Homo sapiens: one gene and its partners. The protein of the gene in region 5 purifies or fractionates together with the protein of the main gene of each other region. This does not show direct contact. Each region holds a gene or a part of one and is shown on either strand. Other genes may lie near its edges. The genes, in order: FKBP1A, PGM2, GATD3, MTPN, ALDH4A1, ANXA11 and GOT1.

Region 1 (4,121 bases), on a different chromosome or scaffold from region 5:
TTCTTCACTCCTAAATTCTTGGTAGCCAGGACAGTGTCTTGTACATAGCAGACATTCATCAAGTACTTACAGAAATATCAAAGGTACCCTTTTCTCCTCCTGGCCTGTGTATATACCTGGAAGACGCTTTCCTCCTGCCTGACTGCACCATACACACCCAAGACCAAATGGCACTTCCTCCAAGAAGTTCTAGCCTATAGGTGTAGGTTGCCTGAGGTACTTTCATTGTAACTGACCACTCCCTACAGGGTAAGCTTCTTGAGGGCAACATTGAGGCTTTGCCCAGCTCCTTATATATTCACTGAGTGACCGAGGGAATGCCAGGTCCTAACTGGCCACTCATTCAAACAGTCACTGAATAGCTACTCTATGCCAAGACTGATGGGGAGACCTTGGAGAACAACACTAGTGTGGGTCTGGCCTCCTGGAGCCTTCAGTCGGTTGGGGAAAGAGCAGATGTTTAACTACACGGATCCTGACTATGATGGGGGCTAAGAAAATAGATGGGTGCATTGTTGCAGAATTAGAAGCATGCATGTATGCATCCAAAGTGTTACTTAAGCTGTGCTATAAAGAAAAGAGCCTGTCATGCAGTGGGGAGTGGGGGCAGTGTGGTGGCACCTAAGCAAAGGGGCAGAGACCTCCATGTGGGAAAAGGCTTGGAGCATTCGAGGAATGAATGCAGGCCAAGGTGGCTTGAGCTCCTGGGAGAGGAAGAGCAAATGTAACAGAAAGAGACAGTAGCATCTAAGAACTGGTTATTTCTACCTCCCCGACTTTCTGCACTGCTAGAATACACCTGGTCAAAATCAAAGGGGTCCAGGGGAGGGAATGCAGAGACTTGGTTAAGCTTTTTAGCAGGAAAAGAAAACAAAAAAACAGAAGAAAAAATAGAAGTAAAAATAAACAAATGTCACCATGAGCACCAAAGGGAGAACTGAATGCTATGTGATTAAGTTATTCATAACCTTGGCTTCTTCCATGGGAAACAGCAGGTGACAATATTTTTAGAGAAAATTCCAAGGCAGACAAATGATTTCCAGTTTATGGATACAATAAACCCCTCAGTAATTCATAAAAATCAGTTTAAGCCTAAAAATGTTCTAGTTAAAACATCTATGAGTAAATAGGTGAATTTATGGTATGTAAATTATATTCAATAAAGCTGTTACCAAGAAAAAAAAAGGTCATGGACCCCACTGAAAGGAACCAGAGCTCTTTGAAAGATGGCTGATAATTGGACCAGAGTAGTGAAACCGAGAAATGGATGAAGGAATGGTGGGAGCCTGTCAAAAAGGTACTGGAGCCAGCTTAAAGGGCTCCTACTGGCCAAATTTAGGATGATATTAGCATCAAAAAGAATAATGGGTATCATTGATCTTAAGGCCCTGACAAAAAATTTCAGCCCACAGTACAGTCAAAGCAAATAGAGGGGGAAAAAGTCACTTGCCCCCACTGGGAATGGCAATACCCCATCAGTTAACATTCATTTTTCATTTTAAAAATTGGTAATTAAAGGCTGGGCACGGTGGCTCATGCCTGTACTACCAGCACTTTGGGAGGCTAAGGAGGGTGGATCACTTGAGGCCAGGAGTTTGAGACTAGCCTGGGAAACCTGGCGAAACCCGTCTCTACAAAAAATACAAAAATTAGGACAGGTGGCATGCACCTGTATGCCCAACTATTCAGAAGGCCGGATGGGAGGCCGGGATGGGAGTCTGGGAGGTCGAGGCTACAGTGAGCCATGATCAAGCCACTGCACTCCAGCCTGAGTGACAGAGACACTGTCTCAAAAAATAAAAATAAAATTTGGTATTTAAAGGTAAAGAATTACTTTACCTTATCTTATAGAAGGATAACAGCTAATAAATTTAGAAAGAATGAAGGAATTTTAAAAATCAACACTTTGTGAATGCCAGTGACTTCTTCAGGGGAGAATGATCAGATGGTGTAAACACCACTAGGTGAAAGGCTGATGAGCAAGAGACCATCTATGGCTACCTAAGCACTCCACAGATCACTGCTAAATGCAAAGGGAAAAATGTACCTTTACAGAAAAGATCAAATTTAGCATCACAACTAGTGATGTTTCCCATGTGTGCTGAGGATGAAGTACTCACACTAAAATGTTTAAACGGAATCTATTCAGACACTTAAAAGATTAAACATCCGGTTCAGAAAATCAAGGCAGGGAACAAGTTAAACAATACCATGAGAAAACAGTAAGACAGATGTGGAGTATTCTATAACTAGCCTGCTCTCTTTGAAGAAATCAGAGTTATTAAGAAAAAAACAGCGTAAGGACTCTTCTAGACTGAGATTACAGACATAACAACTGCGATGAGTGAGGCTCAATGGAACTGTGGTTTTAAAAAAGAGCAACACTTTGGAGACAACTGGGTAGTCTCGATAGGCATTTGCTTCACAGCAGGCATCGTTACTCCCATTTTATAGACAGCATGTGGAAGCTGGGAACTGTGGGACAATTTGTTCAAGCTCTCATAGCCCGTTGTATGGCAGGGTCAAGATCAGAACACAGCGAAGAACCCACATGCTCTTTGGGGATCACTGTCCACCTGGCACCACTTCTGCCCACTGCCTGAGCTGGCACTCCACACACCTGGGATACAACCAGTGTCCTGTTTCTGCCTTTGCCCCCAAAAGCCCATTGTCCACACAGTAGCCAGAAGGAGCGTGGGTTGGGGGGGCGGGGGCGGGCATTAAAAGCCAAGCCAGCCAGTGGCTCTCACCTGAGTTAGAAAAAGGCAACGTTTTTATAAAAACCAACGAGGCTCCACCATCCCCTCATCTCCTGCCACATACCCTTTCACACAATCCACTTCCTGTTCCTCTAACGCACCGGTCTTCTTACTGTTCCTCTAATGCACCGAGCAGGCTCCAGCCTCAGGGTCCTGCACTAGCTCTTCCCTCTGCCTGGATACTCTAGACAGCCCTGTAGCTCCCTCTCCAATGTCCTTTGAGTGAATGTTAAAATGCCATTTTTTTCAGAGGCCTTTTCCAATCACCCTCACGAAAAGCAGCCAACTTCCCTTCCCATCCCTCACTCTGCTTTAATCTCTCCAGCGCTTCTTACTACCTGATGTGCTCCATGGCCATACTATCAGTCTCCTCATCATAAGCAAAGCCCCACCAGATCAGGTCTTTGTCTATTTAGTTCACTAGCCATGTCCCTAGAGCCTGGCTTGCTGCTGTTGCTCAAAAAACATCTGCTGTGGGAAGGCAAAGGGACTTGTTGCAGCCCTGCCCAACAGTTACAGCCTGTGTGCCTCAAGACAGCACACGTCAGGGGAAGCCATCTGAGGCATCTCTGCTGAGGGTGAGCCTCCCTCCAGACATCAGATCACCAACCAAGAGATACCTAGCAAGGGAGTGGATGGAATAAAGCAGAGGAGAGGGGGGAACAAAGCTAAGGAAAAGCAAGGGGCTTGAGGGAGGCTGCAGCAAAGTGGCCACACCTGTCCCGGGAGCCTCAGCAGCCTTCCCAGTCAACCTCCTGAGGACATGAGGTTGAGGGGCTCCTGGTTTTTCTCAGTCAGAAACCGGGAGGCTATACCTGACTTAAACCTGATCCCAAGGACAAAATGTCCAGTTAGTTACTTTTTAAGAAGAAAAAAGAAAACATTCCTTCAATCCCCTTGGGGCTGCTCTCACAATGGCAGGCACACGGCCTGCTGAAGTAAGTAAAAGAGGTCTAAACCTAGCTGTGTGCCAGGACAAGCTAACAGTAAAGATGACGAAGCTACTGGAGGCAGCAGGGAGGCGCCATGAGAATTCCCTGGCTCCTAAAGGCACTTACTTGGCAGCTTACCTTTCCACCACCTCCCTCCCACCTCAATGCCTGTCATGCTCCTAGGAGATGCTTAGCTGGTGATAGTGAACTTTGTATTTTCCCTCTGGTACCACAGAGGTAGTGCAGGCATTCCTTTGAGGCCTTGCTCATGCTGTGCTCTGCCAGAAGGTCACGGAAGTCACCAGAGGGACCCTTGAGAGTGACATCAAGGTGACTGACAGCCATTAGTGGCATTTAAAGCATCCATGTGGTAAAGGTCAGTCTGTGCTCTGCACACCTGTGATGGCTAAGGGGAGATTTTGGCCACCTT
Region 2 (4,121 bases), on a different chromosome or scaffold from region 5:
GCAACTTCTGCCTCCTGGGTTCAAGCAGTTCTCCTGCTTCACGCTCCTGAGTAGCTGGGATTATAGGTATGAGCCACCACACCTGGCTAATTTTTGTATTTTTAGTAGAGATGGGGTTTCACCATGTTGGCCAGGCTGGTCTTGAACTCCTGACCTCAAGTGATCCACCTGCCTCGGCCTCCCAAAGTGCTGGGATTACAGGTGTGAGCCACCGCTCCCAGCCTAGTAGAGTCTCTTTCAGTTCTAGCCTGCGGTTTTTAACTTACCACGCCCAGCTAATTTTTGTATTTTTTAATAGAGACCGGGTTTTGCCGTGTTGGCCAGGCTGGTCTCGAACTCCTGATCTCAAGTGATTTGCCCACCTCAACCTCCCAAAGTGCTGGAATTATAGGCATGAGCCACCACATCCGGCTTCCATATATTTTTTATAGCTTATTTATAATCACGCCTAAGTGCCTAAAATCAGCTTCAATTAATTGTATGGTTAAATAATTTATTCAAATTATTTTAAAAGGTAAATAGAAAAGAGGTTAGTTGAAAAGAGAAGACATTACTTACAGCTTTTTTATCAGGTTGGCTATCATCATAGCCAGTTGTAAGGTCCCTAATGGCAGAAATTTCAAATTTGCCACAAGCTTTTGGATAATTATTTTTTCCATCGTAGTTTCTGAGGTTTTCAAATAATTTCTTAATGGTTTCTTGATCATGGCAGATAAAATAGGAAGCTTTAGTAATATGGTAGCCATACCTATCAAACAAATACAAATTCATGCACATGAGGAACAAATAATTTTGTAGGGTGGACACAGAACATGTACCAACCAGTGTATTCTAAAATAAATATGGCTGGGTGTGGTGGGTCACGCCTGTAATCCCAGCACTTTGTGAGGCCGAGGCGGGCAGATCACCTGAGGTCAGGAGTATGAGACCAACCTGGCCAACATTGAGAAACCTCGTCTTTACTAAAAATACAAAAATTAGCCGGGTATGGTGACAGGCACCTGTAGTCCCAGCTACTCCAGAGGGCTGCAGCAGGAGAATCGCTTGAACCCAGGAGGTGGAGGATTCAGTGAGCCAAGATTGTGCCATTGCACTCTAGCCTGGGCAACGAGAGACTCCATCTCAAAAAATAAAATAAAATAAAATAAATAATAAAATAAATGTAACAGCCAAAACTGACGCCAAAGGAATAATTTTTAAAAGACCATTAAAACAGAGGTCTAGGCCAGGCACAGTGGCTCACGCCTGTAATCCCAGCACTTTGGGAGGCCAAGGTGGGTGGATCACCTGAGGTTAGGCGTTTGAGACCAGCCTGGCCAATATGGTGAAACCCCTAACTCTACTAAAAGTACAAAAATCAGCCAGGTGTGGGGACACCTATAATCCCAGTTACCCGGGAGGCTGAGGTAGGAGAATTGCTTGAACCCAGGAGGCAGAGGTTGCAGTAAGCCGAGATCACACCACTGCACTCCAGCCTGGTGACAGAGCAAGACCCCGTCTCAAAAAAAAAAAAAAAAAAAAAAAAAAGAGGTCCAACAATCTACCCCAGGGATCACCAAATGACTGCCTGGTCTTCCGCCTGCATTTGCACAGAGAGCCAGGTCACACGCATTTCTGTATTCTCTTTGGATGCTTACGCACTACACTGGCAAGGCAGAGTTGAGTAAGTGCTACAAAAAAATGAATAGATGTATTATGAAGACATTCAATCTTTTTTGATACTGGACACTTAAAATCACATTCTTTCATGTTGTCATTTGTTAAGAATTAATGCGATCGGGAATAGTAATTACTAACTTGTTACATATCAAAAGGAAAAGGTGATCTCTTTAGTTTTTTTAAATTTTTTTTTTTTTTTTTTGAGACAGAGTTTAGCTCTTGTCACCCAGGCTGGAGTGCAATGGCGCGATCTCGGCTCACTGCAACCTCTGCCTCCCAGGTTCAAGCAATTCTCCTGCCTCAGCCTCCTGAGTAGCTGGGATTACAGGTGCCCACCACCATAACCAGCTAATTTTTGTATGTTTAGTGGAGACGGGGTTTCACCATGTTGGACAGGCTGGTCTCGAACTCCTGACCTCAGGTGATCCACCCGCCTCAGCCTCCCAAAGTGCTGGGATTACAGGCATGAGCCACTGTGCCCAGCCTTATTTAATTTTTATAAGAAATAGAATTCATCACCAAAATAAGAGCATTAGAAAGGATATTAGTATCTCATGCATAAGTATATAATAGAACATTTCAAAATATTATTTCAATCCAACAGAGTCAATAACAACTTACTCCACATAAATGGCCTTTAGTTGCTGAGACAAAGACAAATTCTTGGTTGCTAGGAAGCTAGCCAACTCTGCACTTATGACAGCGGCACTGACTCCATCTTTGTCCAGAACAAAAGGGCAGCACATGTATCCTGCAGAAACACACGTCATACATACATCTATACAATACTGTGTCAAACCACATATGAGTATGAATCCTGGCTATTGCATATTAGAGGTTGTACAGTGTTGCGTGTATGCACATTTCTCATTAATACCTTATGTTTAGGAATTTAGCCCAGTGCCTAGCCCATAGCAGGCCTTCAAGAAGTATTTGCTGAAGAACCTGCAAGATTTTCCCTCCTGGCCACATGGTGCTCAATCACTAGAGTCATGAAACTCCTTCCAGCTCATGAAATTGTTTCTAATTGTCCTAGTCAATACATATCTCTTTCTTCTCTGAATCCCAATAGTATTTGTTAGTTACATTATTCATTTTGACATCTGGCCTCTACTCTTGTGTGTGATTACTTAACTAAATCTATCTAAGCTGCTGTAGGCTAAGGTCAGTGCCATCCATTTCTTTTAGAGTCACTGAGTAATAGACATGCAATTAATACTTGATAAATGAAAGAAAATCTTTCTTAAAATAAAAAGCTACGGAAAGACAAGTCTGCCAAATCTGACAATAAAAGAGCAGAACCTGAGCGATTATGCTTTGATTAGTTAAATCATGTGTTAGTGTTGCAGAGAATATACAAATGAATATAAATAAATCTAATGCATAATAGTTTTTACTAAATTAATAGCTAAAAGCGTTTGGTACAATGTGAGTTTCAAATTTCTATAGCTAGTTCTCCTTTCTGTTCATTTATATTGACAGTTTAGGACAAGGGTTTTTCTGTCATTCTGGCTGGACCTGGGTCATCCTTTTGGGTGAGTATCATTCTGATGACAGCAGCAAACCATGCCTTCCTTCTCCTTTCCTCTGGCTAGACCGTAGCATAGATCCTCATTAGCACTTTTGGAGGAGGAGGGACATTAAATACCACAGTGTTTAGGCCTGGATATTAACCACCACAGTGGAGGAAACATCACAACTCCCAAAATACATGTACCGGCAGCCAAGCATACAATGTCACTGTTTTGAGTCATCCAGGCAAAGGATTCTGACATGAATGACTTAGTTGTTTTTAAGACATTCCTTTTGGCTGTAAATCATCTGAGATGTCAATTTTGGAGTAGGACAGTTCGACATTCAACCTGAGTGCTGGAGAGGCAAAATAAACCGTGTTTCACTGTGGATCTTTGAATCCCAATCCAAACCTTTTCCTTTTGCCTTGCAGCCAATTCCTTAATGTTCATGATCACTTCTTACCAATAGCTTCTTCAAATGCAAATAAAACAGTTTTCCCCTGGTCTATTAGCTGTTTGGCTCTGTTTCCCATCCACTTAAAGCCAGTTAATGTTTCCTAAAGGGATAATCCAAAAGAGAAAGACATGCCTTAGATCTTCTACAGAGCAGATGAAAGGAAAATGAGTGAGTCCCAGAAACACCCTACCTCAAAATGAAAACCTTCCTTTAAGGCAATGGCCCGCAAGATTTTGGAGGAGACGGTGCTGGACAACATGTACGTGTCTTTGAGAGCACTGCGATCCTGGTTCTTCTCTTTCCAAGATGTAAAAAGCCACCAGCCCAGGAGGGCCCCCAACTCATTGCCTGAAAACACCCTCCATTCACCACTGAAAGAAAAAAAAAACAACAACCACCATTCATTTCCATAATCTTAAGGAAGACTCTAAAGTGTCATGGGGATAAAACAATTTAGCAAACAAAGCATCTAAGTATTTTCTGCAAGGCTG
Region 3 (4,121 bases), on a different chromosome or scaffold from region 5:
ACCTTGCAATCTTTCCCGTCCACGGCAAACGTGCTCCTACCGGGAGACAAAAGGCCTCCTCAGACAGCCTCACAACCAGGGTCTATTCCTGGGGGGCTTCCTAGGCACAGCTCCAGACCCTCAGTCAGCTGCAGCAAGGGACATGGGCATGGCTGCACATATGCGCGTTTGATGTGAACATATTTTCCTGTTTTTTAAACAGAAATAAGCATAGGAAGCAGGAGGATCAGGAAGTGGTGCAGCAGGAGGCCACCAGGGCGAGAGGGCCCACGCCCTGGAACCTTCCGGAGCAGCTGGCAGAACCCGGGCTGCGGTGCTGAGACTCAGACGCTGGTTTCCGGCTCCTAACTCCCGTGCTGCTTGTTAGCTTTCTGTTACGACGTTGGCTGTGTCGGGCCTCGGGCAGCCTCTGACCTTCCCGCCTGCCCTTTACCTGCCCCAAAGCAGGACTCTAATGTTCCCCGCCTTTCTGACTGTGGGTCTCAGGACCCTCTCCTGAGAGGGTCCCCCACTCCCCGGGGGAGAATGCTGACGTCATGTTTCCCTGAGCACTGTGAGCCACGCCAGCAAACGGGGTTGTGGGAACCCCAACTTGAAGCCAATTGGTCAGTTCCAGAGGCTCAGACAGTTTACCGGTATGTGTCAGAGGGCAGTTTTGGGGACGGAGCCCTCAACCCGTGCGATCGGACGCTACCCCGGGTCCATACTGTTGGAACTGAATTAGAAGGCAGCAGCGACCCCTGCGTGGTGCATGGGGAAGACCCTTCACACCCACCTTCTGTGTGGACAACTGTTGTGGTGGGAGGAGGAGAAACACGGTGTGAGAGTTTTTCCTTAAAACAAAGGGGCAGCAGGAAACTCCAGGAGTTCCCAAAAAAAGAAACGCAGTCGGCCTCCAGGCATACCAAGCACTCTTGCTTCGATGACCGTGAAAGAAACGCCAGTTTACCTGCGACACCAGCATCCACACCTCAGGCCGAGGAGCAGGAGCTGTGGAGGGCACGCGGGGCAGGGGAGGTCTCTCCACACTGCCCATGGGGCGTGTGATCTGGCAATGCCACCAAATCTACAAGTGGACACACCTTCCCACGAACCCACCCCTGGGCTCTACGCCACCCTCACGCACCCCAGTCCTCTGCCCCAGCATTTTCCACATGGCTTTGCTGGCAGAGTGCTGGGAATCTTCTGGAGGCAGTGGGTGTTCGCCGTCCCCATGGGTGACTGTCTCAGAGGGTGCAGAGTGGCCACGGCTGCAGCTCATTAGAGCGCGCCGCACCATGGACACGCAGGGCAGGCTCACCCAGAACGCTCTGGACAGGTCAGTGAAAATGGGAGCTTCGCCCAGGGGACGTGGGCTCAGACACACGGGCACATCAGTCCCAGGGCCCATCAACACCTTGAAAGCCAAGGCCAAGACCCACTGACCCTGAGAACCACCACACACCTCACGCCTGTGCCTCTGGGTTGGCAAAATGTGGAGGAGCCATGCCAGGGCACGGAGCCCCCAGCACACCCTCCAGCTGCCCCTGCGCCCCGCCACACACGGTGTCAGTGGTCAGAGCCTCGTGGAGACGGCAGCGACGCAGGGACAACTGGACAAAAGATCGAGCCTGACGTGGGGCTGCGTGAGGTCAGGGGTGTGGGCGGCACCGACGAGGCTTGCTGGCTTTCAGGAGACCGGGGACGACAGGCTGGGGTGGGGCTTCCGGTGAGAGAGGGGTGAGGGCACGGCCAAGGGCACTGAGAAAACAGCTGGCATCTGAGGAAGGAGGCCTCTGAGGTTTCGGGATAAGGAGGGGCGCATTCTTCGGATGGAGACTGCCTACCCCTCGACTCTGGGTGCAGGCTGCCCAGGGTGGGGCAAGCGGCCAGCCAGCCTCCAACCTGCCCTTGAAACAGGAGCTGCCGACCGGGGCCGGCCGTGCTGGGGCTGCCACCCACACCATGGCACAGAAGCCACCTGCACGCTCCGATGCACTGTGGCCAGTGCTCCTGCAGGTGGCAGAGCTGTCCCTGGAGGGTCAGCCTGGCACCACCTCCACCTCTCAGGCAGGGCCATGGGGGCGGTGCCCAGAGAACCTCCATGAATGTGCAAAGAGAGAGAGGAGACACAGAGAACAGAAAGAGGATCTGGAACTCAAGGACGCCACCGTGTGGGAGCCAGCCAGGCCTCCATGATTCACGGTCCAGCTACCAAAACAGCCACGCCAAGGCGGCCTCCCTTCTTCCTGTCAGGACCGCCGCCCAAACTACCAAGAAGGAAACCCATTTCTGATCCTGCAAGGTTCCATAAGAGAATTGGGGCCAGGCGCGGTGGCTCAGGCCTGGAATCCCAGCACTTTGGGAGGCAGGAGGGTTACTCGAGCCCAGAAGTTCCAGACCAATTTGGGCTACATACATGGCCAAAAAAAAAAAAAAACAAAACCATGGGCATGGTGACATGCGCCTATAGTCTCGGCTACTCAGGAGGATGAGGCTGGAGGATGGCTTGAGCCCAGGAGATCATGGCTGCAGTGAACTAGGATCGTGCCACTGCATCCCTGCCTGGGCAACAGACCAAGACCTCATCTCTACAGAAAAAAAAAAAAAAAAAGAGAGAGAGAGAGAAAAAAAACTGGCACTTGCAAGGAGTAAATACTCAGAGACTGATTTCAACGTGACGAGACCTACAGCACAGTGATGAGATAAGAGGGAGCCCCAAACCCACTCTGACAAGCTGCTGGGTACCAGGAATGCTGAGAGAAGAGGCAGCAGAGAAGCAGAAACAAAAGCATGGCTCGCTACAACGCTACCTAAGACCCAACCCTAAGAACAGCTCCCAAGTCAGAGGGCAGGCACGTGCCCTGCCCAGACCCTAAACCCAGAGACTGCTCCTATCACCACCCCCTCCCATCGCCGCTCCACTGACCACATTGGACAGCAGACAGGTGCACCCCCTTCCCATCTGCTCCACATGGAAAGCGGAAGACCTTGGAGCTCAAATACGCACAGGTTTTTAGCCGCTCCAAAGCCTCCTGGAAAGATGGCAGCATCATGGTTGGCTGCACTGAGGTTGGCCAGGTCTGTGATTTTGCCACGGGCGATCCTCGCAGACTCGGTCAAAACATTCCTGGGAAAGAGCACAGGGCAAAAAGCCTCAGCATGCAGGTGAAGGACTGTGGAGCGCGGCAGGGGCACAGCCCACAGGCAACACGCTCCACACACGTGGCTCTCAGCCACACGGGGACTTACTTCCAGGTCAGCATGTTTGGTCACTACCTGGAAAGACAACATGGTTCTAGCAACGCTAAATCTATGCTGGGCTCTTCCGATCAGCACTTCAGAACCTGCGCCAAATCACTCTGAATCTTCTGCAGTCAAGGCCCATGGGAAATGGAAGTCTCTCCGAGTGTCTAAAGCAGACAGAATTCTGTGCACTCATCAGGACGGTGGGACTCAGAGGGGAAGGTAAGAAGCCAGGACTCAGGACCAGTGAAGCAACCCGAAGGCCAGCCACCGCAGGAAGCTGCTAGCCCCCAGGTGTGGGGGCCGAAGGTGCAAGTCCAGGTGCAGAAGCCAGGGTCCCAGGCAGGAAAAGAAATCACAGGGGTCCCCACTGGTGAGAAGCACAGCCCCAGGAGGCAGCTATGGCTTCTTCCTCGAATCTCCAGCTCCGACCTCTCGTGGTCCGAGGCCAGTTGGAAGGCACCTTGGAATGGCCTGCACAGGGCTGTCAGGCAGGACAGGCAAGGGAAGGGGATCTCAGGCCACACAGGCCAGAACCACACACACCGCAGTAACAGACATGCTGCTGGGAACCAGCAAAACAGATCTGGAGCCCAGACAGGGGAAGAAGGTGGGCGACCAAGCTGAGAACCACCACCTTTGCTTAAGACCAAGGTATGAGCAGCCTGACTCAGTGGGAAGCGATCCGGTCGCCATTTTCAGTCCTTCTGTGAGTACTGGAAGGAAGGCACTCCTGAGCCTTGGCAGCATTACTTCTGGAACAGCCCGAGCACAGCTGCTCAGAAGGACGTTCATTTGCACACAAGACTTGGTTTAAGCTAAGCCAGCAAAAAAAGGCTGCACCGTGGGAGGTAGACAAGAAGCAAGTTCCAATCCCACCCCCACACCTGCTCTCG
Region 4 (4,121 bases), on a different chromosome or scaffold from region 5:
AAATAACAAGCTCATAATATTGTTATAATTTCTATCAGTTTTAATTCATTAAATTTTTAATTATCTGCACTAATAAAAGGAAAATGTTTAGAATCTCAAACCAAAACACTTTATATAGCCTATGTACATCTGAATGAACATTTATGTTCCAATGTAAAAAAAGATCTTCCTCTATTTTATATATTTTTTAAAATGACTAAAAGCATTAATAATTAGAAAAGAATCTATACTAATGTTTCTCTGTCTACTGAGGGCACCTGTATCTTATACAAGCTGACATATGCTTTCTGAATAGGTCACCAGCCCTTCTGTAGAAAGGGCAACACACAGTGATACATTTTTATAAGAAAGAAACTAATAATTTAAAGAAGAAAAAAAAGGGAAGCTGCCTAAAACCAATAAATGCAAAGTAGATTGAATCAGGACCTCTTTTAAATTGGCTATTTTATTAGGAAAGTGAAAAGTGATCTCAATGAGTCTTGGAATTTCTAAAGATTAGAGTTGATATCTTTCTCAGGTTCAAGAGATTCTATCCTTTCACATGGTGCACAATTGTTGCTTTTCAAACCTATTAGAGTGTCAACGGCAGATGTAATTAGAATGGAGGCTGGAGGGAAAGGAAACCACAGAGAAAGGGAAGTTAGAGACCAGGCTTCTATTTCACAGCAAGTGAAATAGAAGTACATGTAAACAAGAGAGTACATGTATCAGACCTGCTGAAGATTAAAAGGGGCTATTTATCAATGCAACTCACAAGCACTCACCTGTAAGCATGTTGGATCCTCAAAATCCACCAGAAAGCTCACCTTTTAGTAGTCTCAATGGATAATTACCATCCTGCTATGATTATTTTTACTATTTACTCAATAATATAGTACCCCCCTAGTTTCTGGCCTTATTGAGAAATGAAGGTCAAGGGTATGCTGAAGTAGTTAACAGCATGGGGCTTTTGAAACTCCTTCAGAACCCAAGGAAGTGAGTTCACATCTCAGCTTCACCACTTAAGAACTTTATGATCTTGAGCAAGTTATTTAATCTCTGCCTCTAAAATCTCTAAAATGGGGTTAACATTATTAATAATGCTCATGGCTTACTGTTGATAAGTAAATGAAATAATACCTGTATACTGCATCACAATCCTCAAATACATAAAATTTAATAAACATACTTTTTTCAAAATGTTACTTGTTTTATTTAAATAATTATGAATAGAAATCTCAATAATTTAGTTATTTTTGTTTCTTCCTAAGGCAAACAAACAAAATTTAACTTTTTCTGGACTGTGTAGGATCACAATTAGGAACATAAATTATAAGGTTAGATTATATGTGACCATAAATACAAAACATTCTGCAGGCTATCAGTCACTCTTATGGACACGTCTTGAGTAATGACAGTCTCTGATGAGAGTTTAAGTTTACAGAGATGTTTGTCTCTATACTAATTATTTCTGAATTGTTACATTTACAATTTTTAAAATACGGTTGCCATTTTTGTCTTCATTCACAGTCAGAGCTAATTAGTTGTACCGGCTTCTTACAAGCCTCTTTCTCGTTTTCTTAATTCTAAAGTGTTGTTAGCAAAAAAAAAAACCACTTTTAAAGCAAACTGATATGGTTATAAATACACACGCGCACACGCGCACGCGCGCGCACACACACACACACACACACACACACACCCCATGTAGATTCAGACAGTTCTGGGTTTAAAATCCAGTTATGCTACTTAGTTTGTGACCTTGTCAAGTTACTTCAGTTCTCTAAGCCTCAGGTTCTTCATCCTTAAAATAAGATTATTACTTATACTGAAACACTGTGGTAAGAAGCAAATAAAAACTTAGGTAAAACATCTTGCAGAGTGCTTTCCAGTACCTGACAATGTAAGTCATCCAGTCAATGGTAATTATTATTCTGTAATTAATGAAGTATGCTGAAATTATTGCTAAGTTAAGAATAAAATGAATTTCTTACCAGAAACATGATTTTAATGTGTAAAATTCCTTGGCGCTATGTTGGAGACAGAAAGATGAAAAAGAATATATTATCTACCCTCCAGGAGTTCAGAGCCTAATGAAGACACATGTAAACAAAATCACAGCAATCTGATGAGCAAAACAGTAAAAGAAGCAGCACTCTATGTGAAGTCAATCTTTTTCAGCCAGTCTCCCTCACTGCCCTTAAAATATTAATACTTTTGTGATTTCTCATTGCTTATTTTAAAAGGGCCAACTCCTCATCGGTATGGTGTTTTTCTGTTAGAGGTGATACTTACCCTAGGAGGGTAAATAGGAGTTTAACAGGTTGGGGGTTAGGGATTGAGGTGAGCAGACTTGGTCAGGGAGGATGAAAGAACACATGTAAAGATCTACAAGGAAGAAACAGGATGGCAGGGTCTGGAGCAGAGTGCTTAGAGAGAGGCAAGTGTAGAAAAGCAAGCCCAGATAATAGTGGCCTAGTACACCATACCAATGAGGAGCTGGCCCTTTTAAAATAAGCAGTGAGAAATCACAAAAGTATTAATATTTTAAGGGCAGTGCAGGAGACTGGCTGAAAAAGATTACATGCTTATATTCATGTTATTGAGAGATCCCTCCACCTAAACTGTGTAAACTGACCAGGAAGGGGTCAATTTTTGCTGCTTCTTTCCAGCCTGGACTATATATTCTTTCTTGACTATTTTCTTATAGTCAAGAAAGAAAATATAGTCCAGGCTGGAAAGAAGCAGCAACTGATCTAAAGTAGTAAGAAGAAAGGAGAGTGAGGAATGGATGAGGGAGACTAAGAAGGTAGTCTTGGTAACCCTCAGAAATCTAGGAAAATTTCCCAGTTTCCAGTTTGGACAAATGGTTGGGTCATGATACCATTAGTGAAAATGGAGACACAATAGGAATAAAAACAGTTTTTGAGAGGAAAACAGCTCAATTTGGAATTTGTCTGAACAGAGCTTATGCAGTCTGAAATTCAGGTGAGGCTAGAATTAACTCCAACAGGAGAACATAAAGGCAGAAATGTAAGACAAAGTCAAAAATAATGTCACCCAAAAGAAACATCCAGATCAAAAATGGGGCTATGAATATCTCTTATAGCTGCTCATGAATACCTTATTTTCTGGCTTTCACTTGTTTTCCAGCCGGACAACTGAATTTTATGAAAATGAGATGTTATTTATAATTTGCATACTACTATAAAAGTATGAATTTTTTTTCACGCAGGTCTGCTAAATATAGATGCTTACGTTTCCTGAAAACTGTGTCGAACTTCTGTACTATCATCCCAGGACTACTAAAGAGTTTAAGACCTGAAAGATGCCTAGTAAAAATGAATGAATTAACTAAATGTGGTCCTTAAGTCAGTCAAGAAGCCAAATGTAGTGTTGAAAGACTTTAAAATTGCTTCAGATATTGTCTTAAAGTTATACATGAAACATTTAATGTAATAATCTAAATTTTTCTCTAAATAATCTAAATTTTTCTCTCAATACTGTCTTTTCCATTTCAAAATACAATTTTCAGTGGTTTGGGGACTGTGAACTGACTTTTCTAAGTTCAAGAACTCACCTAAAACCAATGATTTAGGGATACTCACACTTCGAACTTTAATAGAGAAGTCAGAGGCAGGTAGAAAAGTGTAATTACTGACTTTTAAAAATACTAATTTATAAAGGAAAAACGGGTTCACACCTGTGAACCAGTGCTTTCACACCTGTAATCCCAGTGCTTTGGGAGGCCGAGGCCAGAAGATCGCTTGAGGCTAGGAGTTTGAGACCAGCCTGTACAACAAAGTGAGATCCAGTCTCTACAAAAAATAAAATTTGCTGGGTGTCGTGGTGTACATCTATGGTCCCAGCTGCTCAGGAGGCTGAAGTTACAGTGAGCTATGATCACGACACTGCACTCTAGCCTGGGCGACAAAGCAAAGACCCTGTCTCCGAAAAACAAAAACAAAAAAACCCTGTTTCCAAAAAAAAGAGGAGGAGGAGGGGAATACTAAAATGCTTATCTTACTCTTACAGGTAGATTCTTAGGTTAACAATATGAGAGATCTTCACAGGAATGTTGAGGAGAGTTTTTAAAATAGACTCTCACCCCTGAGAATGAAGACTAGACAGGTCTAAGTGTT
Region 5 (4,121 bases):
TTATTGTGTCTCATCTGATCATGGTCTCAGAGGGACGTGGCCTGAGGCTAGTGTTCTGCGGGATTGTTTTTGCCCTATGGGAGACAGACTGGCCCGGCTATGAGTGTCGGGGGCCAGAAGGAGTCTGGGGCTCAAAGACCCAGCCTGGGAAGCCTGAAGGAAGGACACAAAACCAAAGGAGTGTGGCCAGGCCCTGTGTTCATTCCACTTGACTTGAGGTTGACTGAGGACCTGCTGGGTCTCTGGTGCCGTCTCAGACCCTGGAGATAAAGCAGTGACAGAGACAGCGAGGCCCCTGGCTGCACACAGGTGACCTTCAGTGTGAGGCCTGGTCAGGAAATAAGCAAGGTAACCGCAGATGGTGAGCATGGCAAACAAGGGGGAGAATAGGGCTGCTTCAGCCAGGGTGGTCAGGGAAGGCCTCTCTGAGGAGGTGACCCTGAGAGGGACTTAAAGGAGGCTTGAGAGGAGCTGGGAAGAGCATCCCAGGTAGAAGGAGGCGGGGGGGGGCTGAGAGGGGCCTGCGTGGTAGAGGGAGAGGGAGAGGCAGGGGCAGGGCACCCAAGATCCTGACAGGTAAAGTGAGCACATAGGACCTTCTCTCCACTCCCCTCCCCTCCCCACCAACCTCCACCCTGAGCCGGTAGCTCTGCACTCCCCACCCCCACTCTGCCTCCCACTAGCTGTGTGACCTTGGGCAAGTCACATGTCTTGAAGCCAGTTTCCCTCCCTCCCTAAAACACTGACACCCCCTCATGGGGTTAATATGGAGATTTGATAACGATAAATACATTAAAATCTGCACGGCCCTCTTCCATCTACCATCATGAGAAGAATGGAGAGGCAGCCACGAGTCTCCACAGTCCCTCAGGAAGGGACAAGGCAGTGTCAATCCCCTGGGACCATCTGGAAGCTTCTGACAGGGACCTCAGCTAAGCTCCTGACCCTGCATTCAAGCTGCGCTCCAGGCCTCAACAGCACCACACCCACCAAAGATGGTGAGCCAGATATCACCATCAACTCTTTCAGCCGAGAAGCGGGACTCCAAATAACTGAGTCTGTCCCAGCCCCTCTTTGGAGCCCAGGTCCCAGTGGATGGGAAAAGCACAGGCCCCAGAAGTGGACAAATCCGGAGGCAAAGCTCACACCTGCTCCATGACCTCAGTGCATTCTTAGAAAGTCTGCGAGCCTCAGTTTCCTCACCTGGAAAATGGGTACAATACTACCGAAAAGAGAAAAATAGCTCAGAGCAGCGTGAGCTATGTGAAGTATGCAAAATGTATCAGGCCCAGGGAGACACGAATATGGGACCTGAGTCATGCCCTTTGCATCCACACCCGATGGCAATTATTTCAAGGCATTTTGTTTCTGACTAGCTGCCTCATCCATTAACTTCATGATCCTGGAAAGCGTCACACAAAGAACAATGCACAGCAAATCAGTAGCTTTTTTTTTTCTTTTTTGAGTCGGAGTCTTACTCTGTCACCCAGGCTGAAGTGCAGTGGTGCGATCTCAGCTCACTGCAACCTCCGCCTCCCGAATTCAAGCAATTCTCCTGCCTCAGCCTCCCAAGTAGCTGGGATTACAGGTGCCCGCCACCACACCCAGCTCATTTTTTGTATTTTTAGTAGAGATGGGGTTTCACCATGTTGGCCAGGCTGGTCTCGAACTCCTGACCTCAAGTGATCCACCCGCCTTGGCCTCCCAAAGTGCTGGGATTACAGGCGTGAGCCACTGTGCCCAGCCGGTAGCTTATATTATTTTAATATAAATTTTTGGTAAATGACTTAGAAACTGCCTCTTTCCTCCGCACCTTAAAATCCCACTTGTTACTGCAGCTAATCGGAGTGTATATTCGAGGTAACTTGAATCTATGCTCCCCGGTGGCCATCCTCAAGTTCTGAGCTCGAATAAACTACTTAATCCTTCTTTCTGAATCTCACTATTTAAGGTTGACATGATGCACCTTGCAGGGCCATCAGGAGGATTACAAGTGTTGGCCTTTCCTCACCCCTCCTGCTCTTGCTTTCCAAAGAAAACTGTAAAGGTCTCAGAATGCTATTTCAGTAGATCAGGCTTTCAGAGACAAATGGGCTCCCAGATGCCCCCAAAAATCACAGCCTCGGGGACTGGCCCAGGTACTCAGCAACTGCTGGAGGAATACACAGCACCATATTCCATCCCCAGGTTAAAACGGAGTAGGCCGGTTGCAGTGGCTCACGCCTGTAATCCCAGCACTTTGGGAGGCTGAGGTGGGCGGATTGCTTGAGGTCAGGAGTTCGAGACCAGCCTGGCCAACATGGCAAAACACCATCTCTACTAAAACTACAAAAAAATTAGCCAGACGTGGTGGCACGCGCCTATACACCCAGCTACTCAGGAGGCTGAGGCAGGAGAATCACTTGAACCTGGGAGGTAGAGGTAGCAGTGAGCCCAGATCGTGCCACTGCACTCCAGCCTGGGCAAGAGAGCAAGACTCCATCTCAAAATATATAAATAAATGTAGTAGCGGCCAGTTCTCCTTTCTCCGTTCCCTCCCAGGAAATGTCAGAGTCAGAGATCCTGCAGGCCTCCCTCCTCCTTCCACAGGGCAGAGGCCCAGATGCCCACTGTGACCTCAGGATCACATGCCCCCACGGCTTTCCCTGTGCCTGGAAGTCTCCAAGCACTGGCCCAGCTGTCCGTCCATCAGTCTGAGTGTGGCCTGGAGAACAGACACTAGTTCAAAGTTCAGCCTGAGTCGACTGCAGCTAAAAATAACCTAAGGACTCCCACCCATCAGTGCTTTCTTTTTTCTTTCTTTCTTTCTTTTTTTTTTTTTTTTTTTTTGGTTCATGAACAATTTTGGGCTAACAGGAGTATCCATCCACTGGCTGCTCGGGTGAAGGCAGAGATGAATCAGTCACAGGACTTGGGGCCTCTCTGAGGATCCATGAGGACCTTCTTGGCAGGACAGCATTCCTCATCCATTCACGCATTTATGCAGTCAGTACACATTTATTCCACATGGCAACGATGCAGAGATAAATTGGATCAGGTCAATAACAGCTCACTCAATTATTCAGCATGCGTTTTCCAAGCACCCAGGAAGTGCCTGGCTCTGGGAGGCAGATATGGATCCAACCCAACCTTTCTCAGAGCAGCCCTCAGTCCTCCCACTTAGGGAAGGCGGCACAAGACAGAGTCTGAATCTGACTCAGGTTTCCCTGAAAATCTGCAGTGCCCTTTCTGCTCATGCCCTGAGCCTGAGACCTCAAGTTGGTCCCCCTCACCCTCTACAAGTGGGATCTAATCTACGAAGGCCATGCACCGTTTCACCTCCTGCACTGGAAGTTGTCAGGGCTACAAATGCTGGGATCTGATCCACGAAGGCCATGTACCGTTTCACCTCCTGCAGCGGGACATGTCAGGGCTGCAAGTACTGGGATCCGATCCATGAAGGCCATGCACCATTTCACCTCCTGTGGCAGGAGATGTCAGGGCTACAAGTACTGAGATATGATCTACAAAGGACATGCACCATTTCACCTCCTGCACCAGATGTCAGGGTTGCAAGTACTGGGATCTGATCTACAAAGGCCAGGCACCATTTCACCTTCTGCACCAGGAGATGTCAGGGTTGCAAGGAGCTGTGGGCCAGCCAATGCAGCTTCAGAAATCTATAGAGGGAAAAACTGAAAAGACACAGAGGGCCCAGACTCCACCTTGCCCAAGACACCTCGTCCGAGGTACTAGTCACTTCAACCTGGACTCACGCCATGCCAGCCCTGCTCCAGTCTCCAAGTCACTCAGGTCCACACCGCAACCAAAGTTAACATGAAAATCTGATCATCAGAGAGATGGCACAGTGGGGAGCTCAGTGAGAAACTACTCAGTGGCTTCTCATTTCTTCTAAAATAAAGACATCAGAATCCTTACCAAGGCCTCCAAATGTATTCCCCATCACCCTGCCCCATTTGGTGCAATCCGGTCACCCCGGTCTCTTCTGGGGTCCTCTCTGCTTGAGATGTCCTCCACTGGTCCAACCTCACATAGCCGGAATGGGGCTCCTATCGGATTCCTCTCATAGCTCTAGACTTTTCTGGAAGCACTAGTGAAAACCCTATTATAGAGCTCTGACT
Region 6 (4,121 bases), on a different chromosome or scaffold from region 5:
CTCACTCTGGAGGAGAAAACACCTTCACTTGGGAATGGGCTGACCCTTCTGCAGCTGGCATCCTAAGCTGTGTCAAGCAGTCTGGAGCCAAGAGTCACTCACACTGGGCCACTGAGGAACAGCATGAAAACAGAAGGTACCTCAGGGACATGCATGATGGAGAGAAGCACAAAAAATGCATGTCCTTAGCCCAGCCCAGCTCAGCACTTTCCCTTTTCAGGACACCTCTGCTTAGGTGGTCCCTCTAGCTGGTCTGACCTCCTGTCTCCTGGCCTTCCCTGAGTCCAGATGAAGTTCCACCTTGTATTAGTCCATTTTCACACTGCTGATAAAGACATAACCAAGACTGGGCAATTTACAAAAGAAAGAGGTTTAATGGACTCACAGTTCCACGTGGCTGGGGAGGCCTCACAATCATGGCTGAAGGTGAAAGGCACGTCTCACATGGCAGCAGACAAGAGAAGAGAGTTTGTGCAGGGAAATTTCCCTTTATAAAAGCATCAGATCTTGTGAGACTTATTCACTATCACGAGAATAGCACAGGAAAGACCTGCCCCATTCAGTTACCTCCCACCAAGTCTCTTCTACAACACGAGGGAATTCGAGATTTGGGTGGGGACACAGCCAAACCATACCATATCTCTTTCAGGAAGCCCACCCTGATCTCCTATCCACAATGCTCACTCTTCTTGGAACTCTCACAGCACTTGTCCTAAAATGTTTTCCATGTTCTCTAATGTTCTAATAAGCTCTCCTTTTTCTAACTCCTAGGATAGATACATATATTACATCCCTATATATTACCTCATTAACCTCCACAATGCTCCTATTGGATAGGTATTATCATCCTCATTTTATAAGCAAGGGAACGAAGGCTGAGCTGACTCTTGACATGCAAAGGTCACACACCCAAGTGCCAGAGCCAGACACTTTTTTTCTAGGCCTCCCCATGAGAGCATCAGTGCTACAGGCTGTAGGACAGGCCTCTCTTCCTGTCCCCCACCACCACCTGCCACAGGGCTGGCACTGTGAGGCCCTTGACACATACTGAATACTGGCAGGAACCCCGGTGGACTCTGACTCATTTCTTTCACTCTCTGGGTGGCACCTGTTTCGGTAGCCTCTATTACGTAGGCCCCAGGAATTCTGGGGGCAGGGAGGACACATCTAGGACATTCCCCTCTCTCCCCCACCTCAAGGCAGGACCTTAAGTGATGTGAGTGGGAGTATGAACATCTCCAGCTCTACTGAGAAGGGGGTGGGGGCCCTGGGCGTGCACTCCAGAGCCCCAATGTCCTGCCCTTGCTGGTCACAGGTGCCATTAAGTCACCGAAGCCAGCCAGCCAGCCTCAGGGCAGCACTCCACCAACCCTGACCATATTTTCCCAGGCACTAAACAAAAAGCCTACACAGGTGCTGTTAAGCATTCAACTCCCCACCCACATGCCAGGAACTAAAATAGCTGTAGCGTATGTTAATCATTAGCCAGGCTGCACCTCAGACCTCCCCTCTGAGGGCTGGCACCTGGGGCAGCTCAGCCTGGAGAAACTCCAGACAAGGCAGGCTGGGAGAGTGGCAGCGTCCGGAGCCTCACCAAGGGGCTGAACTTGAGCAAGCAGGTTCTGAAAGACACTTCTTCAAGATAAAGTCAATTCCCAGTGCACTAGCATTTGGATTACATAAGAATCCTAAAATACTGGAGCTGGAAAGGGCCTTCATGAAATCATTTCATTCAACCTGTTTATTTTATTTGAGGTGGGAGCTGAGACCCAGAGAGCAGAAAGACTCTGCCTGAGGTCTCAGAGCTGGCTGGGGGCAGGACAATGACTAGAACCACATCTCTGGATTTCCAGGCCAGTGCATTATGAACCAGGCTGGTCCCCAACCACTCAACGTATTTCTGGGCTCCATCACACCTTCTCAGGCTGGAGAATGGACTTGAGAAATACAAAGGTTAAACCCCGGAAAGAGAAGAAAGTTACTACTGCCTCCCAAATAATGTCCCATATAATCAAGCCACTCAGAAAAGTACCAGCCACTCCATAGGAGCCTTATGACCCTGTTTCTCTCCAGATCCCCTCCCTATGTGTGATGACAACAGAGAATGGGGGTTGGCAACCACTGCTCTGATCTCTCAAGGATATTACCAGCCACGGAGACCGAACATCACCCCCACCTCAGTTCAGGGTTCAAATAGCCTCTGCCCTCAAACTCTCCTAGAAACAGTCACCTAGGTGTCATATTTGGGGTTGAAGAAGGGAAGTTGGGAGGAGGTAGCACAAAAAAATAACCCCTGGCCGGGCGCGGTGGCTCACACCTGTAATCCCAGCATTTTGGGAGGCCGAGGCGGGAGGATCACGAGGTCAGGAGATCGAGACCATCCTGGCTAACATGGTGAAACCCCGTCTCTACTAAAAATACAAAAAAAATTAGCAAAGCGCAGTGGCGGGCGCCTGTAGTCCCAGCTACTTGTGAGTCTGAGGCAGGAGAATGGCGTGAACCCAGGAGGCAGAGCTTGCAGTGAGCCGAGATCATGCCACTGCACTCCAGCCTGGGCGACAGAGTGAGACTCCGTCTCAAAAAAAAAAAAATAACCCCTATCCCACTGGGTCTTGGAGGGGGCCCCTCGATCCCATGGGGTCTGGAAGATCTGGTGGTGGCTGCAGCAATGGAGTATGCGGATGCCAGACCTGACGGCTGGGAGCAGCAGATGACTCTCGGGGCATCAGCAAAGCCACAGCAGCTTGCCAGCTTGTGCACCAGCCCACAGGAACAGAAGCTGCCTTGCTTGCACTGCCTGCGGGCTTGCCACTGTCATGAGAAACCATTCCCACTTCCTAACCTGAGGAACACAGGCTTAGCCAACAGCAAGACTGATAAGCATAGTAGTAGTTTCAAATTCAGGAGAGCAGTGGGTGGTGTTCCAGAAACTTCTGATTGTCCTCCTCAACCATCTGTTCTCTCTTGCTTTAGTAACAGAACACACCATAGCCTGGCACACAGCAGCCCCCACTAAGGACTGCTTTCCAGACCCCTAGCAGCTAGGAGGGCCTGCCATGGGGATGTGAAAGTGAGCTGTCTTGGGCCATGCAGTTAAGGGAGGCACCTAGACGGTGCTACCCAACATGTGGCCCGGCGGCATTATACAATATGGGAGCCTGTAAGCAATTAACGTGCTCAGGTCCCATCACAGACCTCCTAAATTAGAATGATTCAGGGTGCAGTCCAAGAATCTATGCTTTAACAAGCCTTCCAGATTGTTCTTATACATGCTCAAGTTTGAAAACCACAGCCCTTGAGAATGCTAGGGACAACAGTCCATAAGGAGCCTGGTGCCAAGACAATCTCATGGAACACACACTTAACCTCGACCCTGATTTTTCAAGAAAGAGTGAGAGAGTGAGTGAGAGAGAGAGAGAGAGAGAGACGGGGCTCCTCTCTTCATTCACAACCAAACCTGAAACGTAATACAGGTGGCGTGGGGAAGATGACGATGAGAAACTTAACCCAACAGCAAAAATCAGGAAAGGAATGCATGCAAGTATAATAAGTAATAAGCAAGATGCAAAGAATAAAATCAAGTATATCTGGTATGTCAACAGTCAGAATTCCTCTACCAAAGACAGAAACCATGCAATTAGGTTTGTTGCTGTTATCATTGCCTTCTGTCAACCTCCATCCACCCTCAACCACGTTCTGATTATAAGAGAAACAAATTTTATTTACGAAGATTCCATCTTCAAGATAAACTTTTTTTTTTTTTTTTTTTGAGACCAAGTCTTGATCTGTCGTCCAGGCTGGAGTGCAGTGGCACGATCTCGGCTCCACTGCAAGCTCCGCCTCCCGGGTTCATGCCATTCTCCTGCCTCAGCCTCCCGAGTAGCTGGGACTATAGGCGCCCGCTACCACGCCTGGATAATTTTTTATATTTTTAGTAGAGGCGGGATTTCACCGTGTTAGCCAGGATGGTCTCTATCTCCTGACCTCGTGATCTGCCCGCCTCGGCCTCCTAAAGTGCTGGGATTACAGGCGTGAGCTACCGCGCCCAGCCAAGATAAACTTTTTTAAGTGAGAAAGAAATATTTAAAACTAAGGGTTGGGCAAAGACATACCAAATAAAT
Region 7 (4,121 bases), on a different chromosome or scaffold from region 5:
CTATCTGAAATGTGAAACATAAGCAAAGTTGACATTCAAGGGGATGCAGAACTAAACATAGCTGTACATTACAGAGAGGGGCAAAGGCAGTGCACTGGGGTGAAAATGCTCAGTGTGTGTCAGATTTGGTGTGCTAACTACTCTGTTATTTACAGTGATCCTTACTGAGCACTCATCCCTTGCTATTACTTTAAAAGTTTTGCCCCCACATTGTGGTTTACCTGAATTCTTTATGCAAATTGCTACCAAGATGATATAACACAAATGTGCATTTATTTTTTATGGATTTGTCATCCAGCTAAGTTGAATGTCAGTTTCATACATGACTTCACATTGCAGATACCTAAGCCACTCTAGAGTGCTAATACTTCCTAAGCAAATGAGCAAGACCTCCCTTGAACATGGTTTTAACTTCTGGAAACACGATAGATGCATAGATACCAGTGGAAACATTCCCAGGCATAATTTTTCATTTCCTGTTCTCAACTTTTCACTCCACCCTTTCTCTCCCACTACAGAAAGCAAATTCATTTTTTTAAAAATCAGTAGAATACATTAAAAATGTGCTTAGAAGAGATAAACCCACTCCACATTAACTAATCCTTGACATTCATGACATATATGACACTTGAAATATCAAATTCTCAAGAAGTTATCACTCCCTAAAAATCTATTAAATACTGGATGGCTTCAGTGAAACACAAGTTGCTCTAAACATCAGCAACTAACAGAAACAAGTTTTTGGTGAATCAATAATATAGCAATGTGGTCATTCTGTGAACTGATTTTTGGCAAATTGTCCTACAGCCTAAGAATGTCCTGTACTTGTTATAAAGGAAAATCATAACATCAAAGGAAGTAAGTACAGACTTCTCAAGGAGCCAGGCAACTGGACCTGGGTAAACAAGAGTATCCAGAACAAGGGAAATCCAGGAAGACTTGGTATGAAGCTAGATAGAGCAGGCCTCTGTTGGACATGTCAGCATAAGATTGCTGGATTCTAGAACCCTTGTCTGAGATAACAATTTGCCGATACTATGACTTCACCATGAGGAATAGGAGAGCAACCAGGAGCTGCCTGTGGCCAGAGCCATGCTGCATTCATCTGGGTGCCCCCAGCATCTCTCACGGCATCTGGCACATGGTACTACATAAGCATGTGCTGAACTAGATGAAGAAAGAAGACAGTGGTGAAAAGATCTGAGCCACAGCAGAAGCCCCAAGTCGCCTAGAGGCAATCAAAGCGAGAGTGGGATGTCATGATGTGACAATGAGTTATGACCCATGAGCCCTCCTTCCTACAATGCTCAGTAATCTCAAAGCTGAAACAGCACTATGCCAGAGATGAAAAATCGACATTTCTGTCTGGATCCTAAGATCTGAAAGTGGAAAAGTAATACAAGGCAGTGAGGAGTCTAGAAAATAGGTCTCCTCAAAATGGGTAAAGGATCTGGAAATGTTGAATCTGGAGAAGAAAAATCTAAGGGAAGAAACAATTACTGTTGGTTTACTTGTTCACTCATTCTTTCATTTATGTCTCGTCTTTAAGTTTTGGCTCAAATGTCATTTCTATTTCTATCATAACCACCCTAGTTAAAACTGTATCCACTCCTAGAATTCCTAACATGCCACCTCCTGCTCCATTTTTATAGCATTTATCATCTTTAGTATACTACATCATTTTCTTACTGATATAGTCAAAAAGATTACATTTAGAGTCTGTTCCTCTCCCCGAAACTGAATGCAAGGGCAGGGGATTCTGTGTGTTTGAGTCACTGCTGTGCTCCAGCATCTAGAACAGTGCCTGGCTCTAGTAGTGGGCATCTGATGACTAAAGGAATGAATGAATCCAAACCTTTGGAACCTGAGGTACCCGGATAGGAGCCAAATGCTGAAAATCTGCAAGGTAAATAAGCAATGATCACTCTCCTGGGGAAAGTTAGGGCCTTGTGGGAGATGAAGACTTATAAAATTATCCATTATAGTAAGAACAGTTAAGTACTGTTATTCCCAAGCTGTGAACAAAGTCCTGTGATAACTCAGAGAGCTTAAACAACAAGCTCTGCCTAAAATACCTAAGGATTCAGTGTGGAAGTGACCCTTGATCAGCTCTTGAAGGACTTAGAGGTGGGGACTGGACAGCTAGAGCAATAAGGGAGGGCATTCCAAATGGAGAGAAGGGCCAGGCAAAGGTTCTTAGTCTTGACAGGGCCCAGTAGGTCTAGAGAACAGCAAGACTCTTAGAATGTCAGGACCTCTAGTGGAGTGAGGGGAAATCAGCAACTGTAAGAACAGGATGAAGACTGTCACCTGTCACCTACTTTCACTGCATGCCAAGCTCAAAGTCTGGATTTTACCCTACAGGCAATGGGGGAGCTATGGGCGGTGGGGGTGGGGAGTGGGAACAGGTGACATGAGTAGCTTGTTTTGCCAAGGAAGGTCATCCTAGCTGCAGCATGCAGAATGTACTAAAACAGGGAAGAGACTAGAGGCAGGAAGGTAAATTAAGAGGCTATTAGTGAACTAAGACAGCAGCCTGGGAATGGTGAGGCCTTCCAAGCAGAAGAAAGGCTCAGAGCTCGAACAAAAGGCAGCAGAAACCTCTGCAGACTTAAATGTCCCTGTCTGACAGCTTTGAAGAGAGTAGTGGTTCTCTCAGCACGGAGTTTCAGATCTAAGAACGGACAGCCTGCCTCCTCAAGTGGGTCCCTGACCCCTGAGTAGCCTAACTGGGAGGCACCCCCCAGTAGGGGCAGACTGATACCTCACATGGCCGGGTACCCCTCTGAGACGAAACTTCCAGAGGAACGATCAGGCAGCAACATTTGCTGTTCACCAATATTCCCCGTTCTGCAGCCTCCGCTGCTGATACCCAGGCAAACAAGGTCTGGAGTGGACCGCCAGCAAACTCCAACAGATCTGCAGCTGAGGGTCCTGACTGTTAAAAGGATAACTAACAAACAGAAAGGACATCCACACCAAAAACCCATCTGTACATCATCAGAGACCAAAGGTAGATAAAACCACAAAGATGGGGAAAAAACAGAGCAGAAAAACTGAAAATTCTAAAAATCAGAGTGCCTCTCCTCCTACAAAGGAATGCAGCTCCTCACCAGCAACGGAACAAAGCTGGATGGAGAATGACTTTGACGAGTTGAGAGAAGAAGGCTTCAGAAGATCAAACTTCTCTGAGCTAAAGGAGGAAGTTCGAACCCATCGCAAAGAAGTTAAAAACCTTGAAAAAAGATTAGACGAATGGCTAACTAGAATAACCAATGCAGAGAAGTACTTAAAGGACCTGATGGAGCTGAAAACCATGGCACGAGAACTACATGACGAATGCACAAGCTTCAGTAGCCGATTCGATCAACTGGAAGAAAGGGTATCAGTGATGGAAGATCAAATGAATGAAATGAAGTGAGAAGAGAAGTTTAGAGAAAAAAGAATAAAAAGAAACGAACAAAGCCTCCAAGAAATATGCGACTATGTGAAAAGACCAAATCTACATCTGATTGGTGTACCTGAAAGTGACGGGGAGAATGGAACCAAGTTGGAAAACACTCTGCAGGATATTATCCAGGAGAAGTTCCCCAACCTAGCAAGGCAGGCCAACATTCAAATTCAGGAAATACAGAGAATGCCATGAAGATACTCCTCAAAAACAGCAACTCCAAGACACATAATTGTCAGATTCACCAAAGTTGAAATGAAGGAAAAAATGTTAAAGGCAGCCAGAAAGAAAGGTCGGGTTACCCACAAAGGGAAGCCCGTCACACTAACAGCTGATCTCTCAGCAGAAACTCTACAAGCCAGAAGAGAGTGGGGGCCAATATTCAACATTCTTAAAGAAAAGAATTTTCAACCCAGAATTTCATATCCAGCCAAACTAAGCTTCATAAGTGAAGGAGAAATAAAATCCTTTACAGACAAGCAAATGCTGAGAGATTTTGTCACCACGAGGCCTGCCCTACAAGAGCTCCTGAAGGAAGCACTAAATATGGAAAGGAACAACCGGTACCAGCCACTGCAAAAACATGCCAAATTGTAAAGACCATCGAGGCTAGGAAGAAACTGCATCAACTAACAAGCAAAATAAGCAGCTAACATCATAATAACAGGAT

Evidence for each region.
Region 1: the proteins of ALDH4A1 (region 5) and FKBP1A fractionate together in Homo sapiens (co-fractionation; one large-scale study listed by BioGRID). This does not show direct contact.
Region 2: the proteins of ALDH4A1 (region 5) and PGM2 fractionate together in Homo sapiens (co-fractionation; one large-scale study listed by BioGRID). This does not show direct contact.
Region 3: the proteins of ALDH4A1 (region 5) and GATD3 fractionate together in Homo sapiens (co-fractionation; one large-scale study listed by BioGRID). This does not show direct contact.
Region 4: the proteins of ALDH4A1 (region 5) and MTPN fractionate together in Homo sapiens (co-fractionation; one large-scale study listed by BioGRID). This does not show direct contact.
Region 6: the proteins of ALDH4A1 (region 5) and ANXA11 fractionate together in Homo sapiens (co-fractionation; one large-scale study listed by BioGRID). This does not show direct contact.
Region 7: the proteins of ALDH4A1 (region 5) and GOT1 fractionate together in Homo sapiens (co-fractionation; one large-scale study listed by BioGRID). This does not show direct contact.

What each region holds. Positions count from the first base shown.
Region 1 is NC_000020.11:1,386,047-1,390,167, forward strand, and holds part of FKBP1A (peptidyl-prolyl cis-trans isomerase FKBP1A), read right to left. Parts: intron 1-4,121. UniProt on the Homo sapiens protein: Keeps in an inactive conformation TGFBR1, the TGF-beta type I serine/threonine kinase receptor, preventing TGF-beta receptor activation in absence of ligand.
Region 2 is NC_000004.12:37,846,811-37,850,931, reverse strand, and holds part of PGM2 (phosphopentomutase), read right to left. Parts: intron 4,002-4,121; coding exon 3,821-4,001; intron 3,731-3,820; coding exon 3,637-3,730; intron 2,411-3,636; coding exon 2,281-2,410; intron 749-2,280; coding exon 559-748; intron 1-558. UniProt on the Homo sapiens protein: Catalyzes the conversion of the nucleoside breakdown products ribose-1-phosphate and deoxyribose-1-phosphate to the corresponding 5-phosphopentoses.
Region 3 is NC_000021.9:44,136,165-44,140,285, reverse strand, and holds part of GATD3 (glutamine amidotransferase-like class 1 domain-containing protein 3, mitochondrial isoform 1 precursor), read right to left. Parts: coding exon 4,113-4,121; intron 3,110-4,112; coding exon 2,990-3,109; intron 37-2,989; coding exon 1-36.
Region 4 is NC_000007.14:135,970,580-135,974,700, forward strand, and holds part of MTPN (myotrophin), read right to left. Parts: intron 1-4,121. UniProt on the Homo sapiens protein: Promotes dimerization of NF-kappa-B subunits and regulates NF-kappa-B transcription factor activity. Plays a role in the regulation of the growth of actin filaments.
Region 5 is NC_000001.11:18,892,058-18,896,178, forward strand, and holds part of ALDH4A1 (delta-1-pyrroline-5-carboxylate dehydrogenase, mitochondrial isoform a precursor), read right to left. Parts: intron 1-4,121. UniProt on the Homo sapiens protein: Irreversible conversion of delta-1-pyrroline-5-carboxylate (P5C), derived either from proline or ornithine, to glutamate. This is a necessary step in the pathway interconnecting the urea and tricarboxylic acid cycles.
Region 6 is NC_000010.11:80,195,346-80,199,466, forward strand, and holds part of ANXA11 (annexin A11), read right to left. Parts: intron 1-4,121. UniProt on the Homo sapiens protein: Binds specifically to calcyclin in a calcium-dependent manner. Required for midbody formation and completion of the terminal phase of cytokinesis.
Region 7 is NC_000010.11:99,409,952-99,414,072, forward strand, and holds part of GOT1 (aspartate aminotransferase, cytoplasmic), read right to left. Parts: intron 1-4,121. UniProt on the Homo sapiens protein: Biosynthesis of L-glutamate from L-aspartate or L-cysteine. Important regulator of levels of glutamate, the major excitatory neurotransmitter of the vertebrate central nervous system. Acts as a scavenger of glutamate in brain neuroprotection.